Linked DNA regions of Homo sapiens: region 1 is linked to region 2. Evidence: fine-mapped expression QTL. A gene starts in region 2. The other region holds a variant in brackets. All regions are shown on one strand. Distances are between the middles of the regions.

Region 1 (2,928 bases), 87 kb before region 2:
CCAAGGTGGAGGATCACTTGAGTCCAGGAGTTCGAGACCAGACTGGGTAACATAGCAAGACCCTGTCTCTATAAAAATTTTAAAAAGTCAGCCAGGCATGATGGTACACACCTTTGAGTCCCAGCTACTAGGGAGGCTGAGGTAAGAGGACTGCTTCAGCCCATGAGTTTGAGGCTACAGTGAACTACAATTGTGCCACTGCATTCCAGCCTGGGTGACGAGACTGTCTTAAAAAAAAAAGATGCTGGTTGTTTTCAGACTAAAATAGTAGCAACAGGTCAACGTATCTGAAATCCTTTAGCAGTCATATATGGTTAGTGTAAATCTCTGTGATAAAAGAAAGATCTGGAATTGATACCAAAGCAGCTCAGTACTTTTTAGTGTACTAACACATTTGTTTTAACAACTTGTTCACAGCTACTGCAATGTTCAGATGGAGGATCAATAATCTCTCCATTCTTTGAGCATCTAGCATATTACTGGACTCATGTGTAATCTCTCTCAGCCTTCTAGGTTTTATTTCCACACATTTTCCTTCCCTTCAACCCGATTCCAACTGACTTCTTTGTATTCAGTTAGCAAACAGGAGTGTTCCCCTAGCTTCATCTTCTCTGTTTTTAAAAGACGGAGTCTTTGGAGTGCAGTGGTGAGATCCTGGCTAACTGCAACCTCCACCAGGATCTGATTCTCCTGCCTCAGCCTCCCAAGTAGCTGGGACGGCAGGTGCCCACCACCACGCCCTGCTGATTTTTAGTAGAGATGGGGGTTTCACCATATTGGCCAGGCTGGTCTTGAACTCCTGACCTCGTGATCTGCCTGCCTTGGCCTCCCAAAATGTTGGGATTATAGGCGTGAGCCACCATGCCTGGCAAGTCTTGTTTTTTCCAAGAAGTTACTTGGGACTTAGGCAGATATGATCCGTCTTCTTAGGTCCTCCTTCTCATCCCTGTAAGATGAAGGTGATTGGAAGACCATGAGGTCATCCTTAAGGGGTCCTGTATCAAGGTGTTAAGTAGGTTATCACTTCCACCTTGACTGTTAGCTGGTACCTGCAGTACTTTTTCCCAGAACTTTGGATAAATTCACCAAGATCTACTTGTGAATACATTATACGTAGTAGATTAAAGAGGCTATAAGCTAATGCTTTCACTTTTTCCTCTGAATCCTAAGCATTAGGCACTTAAAACGGGTGTACTCCAAGACAAAGATGTGTTATCAAGTGAAACAAAGTCAGGGTGTCTGTCTCACACAGTTTATTTAACAATAGGTAATAAGAAATCAAATTTAACAGTCTATACAGTGATCCAAAGTTCATATTTATAAGTAATCAACTTTAATTGCATGATTTACAACAGTTGAGGGTTTTTGCTATTTTCAAGTTTTATAGAAAGTGTGTGTGTGTGTGTGTGTGTGTGTGTGTGTGTGTGTGTGTGAGTGGGGGGTAGGGTAAGGAGGAAGAAAGCAAGCAAAGAAGAAACCCCCAGGGACATTTTGCATGTTAAAATCATCCCACCGGAATCGTTTCTTACCCTCTTTTTAATTTTTTTACTTTGTTAGATGTAAAAATAACGAAAAAAATTCTTTCAAGAAACAGAAACCACAATATATAATACATCAATTTGGCAGCTGCCCCTGTATATTTTTGAAAAAGTCATTTTTCTCTCTACATGTACAAATTATTTTAATACTTGAAGTTTTACGCTCAGACTTACAGAATAGAAAATTTTCTGGAGCACAAAAGTTGACTTGAGGGGAAGAAAGGCAGTTTTTTTTTTTTTTT[A/TA]AACATTTTTTAAAAGAATGAACATCTTTGCACCCAGAGAAAAAAAACTGGTATTTTAATATATATTTATATATATTTATATATATATAGAATGTAATTTTAAAGTAACATTAACCCCTTTTGTCCTCTGGTTTAGAAATGTTTTAACTCTTCCATAAAGTGAGGAAAATAGGGAAAAATGTCAACCATCTGCACCAGTAAATAATAACTATTAATATTACATATGTTCATTAATTTAAAAAAAATAATAAAACCTATTGGAGGTGCAAGGCAGGAGCATATTGTTTGGCTTCACAGGCCTCAGCCTCCTCCCAGTGCACACTTGAACCACACACACAAAGGGGAAGAAAGGCTGGTGGTAACCAGCCATAACAAAAATATATTCTTTGTATTCTATCATCCCTCAGGTTCATCTTGCATGTTTGCTTTAAACCACAAACGGCTACTGCACAGTTCTTATGTGTTCCAAGGAAAATTGTCTTTTAGGCTACGAAAGATTCAAAAAAATTGTTTTCAGTACAAAAAGTCTTGTTAAGAGAAAATAATTTTTTTGCTCCCAAAATACTACAAGGTGTCTCTAGTGTATGTCTAGTGTACTCTGTGAGAGGTTTGAATTCAAGTCTGAGTTATCGGTGCTGAGTCCCAGGTCCGTGGCGCTTGCACCATGGAGGTTTGCCATGCCTGGATTGCTAGCAAGCTGAGAAAGCATTGAATTCTGGTCCGGGCTGGCAAAATGCCCTTGTTCCATGGGGTTGGCCTGGGCAGCTACCAGTCCAGGATGTGGGGAACTTGTCTGTGGGGAAACGTGGTGTGGAGAAGGCTGAGGCTGCATCCTTGGGGAAGGACTGGAGTGGGGGGGCTGGGACTGTGGCCGTGGAGAAGGGACAGGCTGGGGAGAGCGCACTTGATTGGAGAGAGAATTAGGGATCTGCTGGCCTTGTAGGTGTGGGGACTGGGCCTGATTTGGGAGCATATGCTGCTGGGGGCTCATGGGGTTGGGCTGAACAGGGGACCCCATCTGTTGCTGAAGGAGTCGCTGCTGATAGGCCTGTAGACTGGCACCTGCCTCTGCTCCCAAGGCCTGGGGAAGCTGGCCTATCTGTCCCATATTTCCTTGTTGCATCTGTTGCATGTGATGCTGCATCCGC
Region 2 (2,500 bases):
CTCCTGACAAAGGAGCTAGTCCACAACTGAATGAACTGGTCGTAAAGCTTTTAAACGAAAATCTTGATCTCCAAGTATGTTTAAAAGTGTAAAAAGACAAAGACACACACAAACACCAAACCTAATGCACATTTTAAACTTTTGTACAATCAGTTCACGTTTGTAGTTCATGATTGGAACTCTTTCAACTTCTAACCTTGATTTCCAGGTACGTAACTCCACAAAATTGTTTATCTTATTTCCCCTAAAATGAGAAAGTGACTGCAAACTGCAAAGAACATGCCCCTGTTCTCCCAACCTAAAAACCCAGAGTTTCAGACATTTTGGTCTCACACCAAAGAACTGGGAGATGTGAAATGAACTGCGCTCCATATTGATTCTTAAAGCAAATAAGAAGAAAAAGGAAAAAAAAGCTAAGAATGGTAGGTAAGATAAAAGAATTGTTAAACTTCACCTCTAACCTGAAATCTTGGACCTCGCACACACAAAATCAAGATTTTTTTACACCCTATTCCTCAACAGAAAATATTCTGCAAAGGAGAGAAAATTTCGAAGAGTGGAAAGTAGAGGAAACACAGTAAGTACAGTAAAGAGAAAGGATTCGAAATTCATTTGCCAAGAACAAAAAAAATGAAACTTAAATTGCATAGGAGCTCTTACACACAAATGCATTGGCATTTCCCAAATTAAATTGCATGAGAGCAACAATACAGGCCATTTCTATATAGCACCCACTTACGAGCTCTAATTCCAGAACACACACCGATATGACATAGTGTTGCAATCAATGTATTAGGAGGCAAAGAAAATGGTTGGGCTACTGGACGTCTTCGACCAGCTCATTCAAATACCTTTAAAATTAATTAAGGGGCAGGGAACTAGAGAGAGAGGAAGAAAAAAAAAATGGAAGAATAAAGGCGCACCGAGTAGAAAAGATTAAAGGGAACGTGGAAGGCCGGGGCTGCCGAAACTAACCTGTGCCATCGCTGGCGGACGCCGAGAGGGCCGGAGATGAGAGTTTAGGCCGCTTGGCTGAAGGCGGCCCCGGTTCCACCACATTCTCGGCCATTTTTAATTCTTTCGGAGATACAAGCGAGGAAAACCAGAATCCTCAGGAAATCTCTTCTTCGGCCCGGGGTCCCCGCGCCGCACCCAGGGGTGGGCTGGGGGGCTCCGACGGCACCCGAGGGGGTGGGGGAAGTTCCTTTTTCTCTTCGCCGGGTCGCAGTGGCTGGAGAGGGATGCGGACTCGATAGAAAAGGTAAGGGCAAGTGCGAGGGGCCGGGCCTGGGCCCAAGCCCGGAGGAGGGCACAAGAGCACAAATTCGCCGAGCGCGTCCGCTGCGGCGAATTCCCGAGAACTCGCGGCTCTAGAGGCGCAGTCCCCGGCCCGCCACGGCCGGCCCCTGCCCAGCCGAGGTCTCTCGGAGCTCCGCCGCCGCCATCAACCTCTTCCTCCTCGGCGCTGTCCTCCTCCTTCTCATCGCCACAAGGAGGCGGGGGCGAAAAGGGGGGAGAGGAGGAGGCGACAAGAGACACTCACCTCCTCCCGGTGCCCCCTCCCGGGCCTGCGCCCCCACCCTCCGAACCCTCCTCCTGCCGCCGCGCTCCGCGCCGCCGCCGCCGCACCGGCCCCTAATGGCCGCAGAGAACTCGCCCGAGCCGAGAGCCAGGCTGGCGCCGCCGCCTCACATCGCGCGGCGGCCGGCGGAGGCGCGGCAAGGACGCCGGGAGCGGAGCTGGCCGGACCAGAGGGCCGAGGGGGCCGGGCCGAGCAGCGCCGCCCGCACGCCCGCGCCGACGCGGAGCCCACCGAGGAGGCCCCGCTCCGGCGGCGGCGCAGGCGGCCCCTCCTCGCGCCGCGCTCCCCTCCTTCGCCTTCCTTTCCCGCGGAAAATAAATAAATACGGCCGCTGCTACGGCCCCCACCGCCGGCGGCCAGGTGCTGGGAGCGCCCGCCCCCCGGGGCTCCGTTCGGGGCCGCCCGCGGCGGCGGGAGAAGACGCCGCGGGGCGCGGGGTTATGTAATGGTCCCCCCTAGGCGTCGACGCCGGCCCGGCTGCTGGACCGCGGTGGGGGTGTGTGCGGACGGGAGGGGGCTGGGGGTCGCCTCAGCCCGTGCGCCCCGGGCCCCCTGCCACTGTCTCGGCCCCTGCCGCCTCTCTCCGACCCGACTCCCCTCCGCACTCTCTGGCTCCCGCAGTTAGCACTCAGCCCGGCGTCCTGCTTGCCCACTCTCGCCCGCTCTCTCTCGCCCTCTCTCCCCCCCAGCCTAGCACACAAACAAGATGGCGGCTGTTGTTTCTTCCCTCTGCCGAATCCTCCTTACAGGCTAGCGGTAGCGGCGGCGGCCGGAAATGAGCCAAGGGGGGGTGGAAAAGGGGAGTGGCCGGGCCTCCGGAGGGGGGCGGGGCCTAGGCCCGAGCCGCTCACACAATGGGGGAAGTGGAGCCGGGGGCGGGGCCTGTCCCAATCACGGGATCCGCCCTAGGCCCCAACG

Direction of the effects. Positions count from the first base shown, and alleles are read on the strand shown. Sizes are in standard deviations (SD) of each study's normalised expression.
In carriers of allele A in region 1, the expression in CD4 T cells of the gene that starts at base 1,482 in region 2 tends to be lower than with TA alone (moderate effect, 0.49 SD a copy in CEDAR).

Evidence for each region. PIP is the estimated chance that this variant, and not a neighbour inherited with it, causes the effect.
Region 1: its variant is the best candidate, but not a certain one, in a credible set for the expression of EP300 in CD4 T cells (CEDAR, PIP 0.64).

The regions. Positions count from the first base shown.
Region 1 is chr22:41,178,386-41,181,313 of GRCh38, reverse strand. EP300 (EP300 lysine acetyltransferase) reads right to left here. Exons shown (of 31, transcript NM_001429.4): 31 at 1,237-2,928. The coding sequence ends at 2,358. Among named protein-coding and RNA genes, the nearest start is that of EP300-AS1, 18 kb to the left of the region's middle. The variant A/TA (reference allele first, on the strand shown) is at 1,781.
Region 2 is chr22:41,091,574-41,094,073 of GRCh38, reverse strand. It overlaps EP300 (EP300 lysine acetyltransferase), which reads right to left and starts at 1,482. Exons shown (of 31, transcript NM_001429.4): 1 at 976-1,482. The coding sequence starts at 1,069. MIR1281 (microRNA 1281) reads right to left here and starts at 1,561; the gene lies at 1,508-1,561. RefSeq lists an enhancer at 792-1,031 and silencers at 1,142-1,241, 1,422-2,191, 2,292-2,500.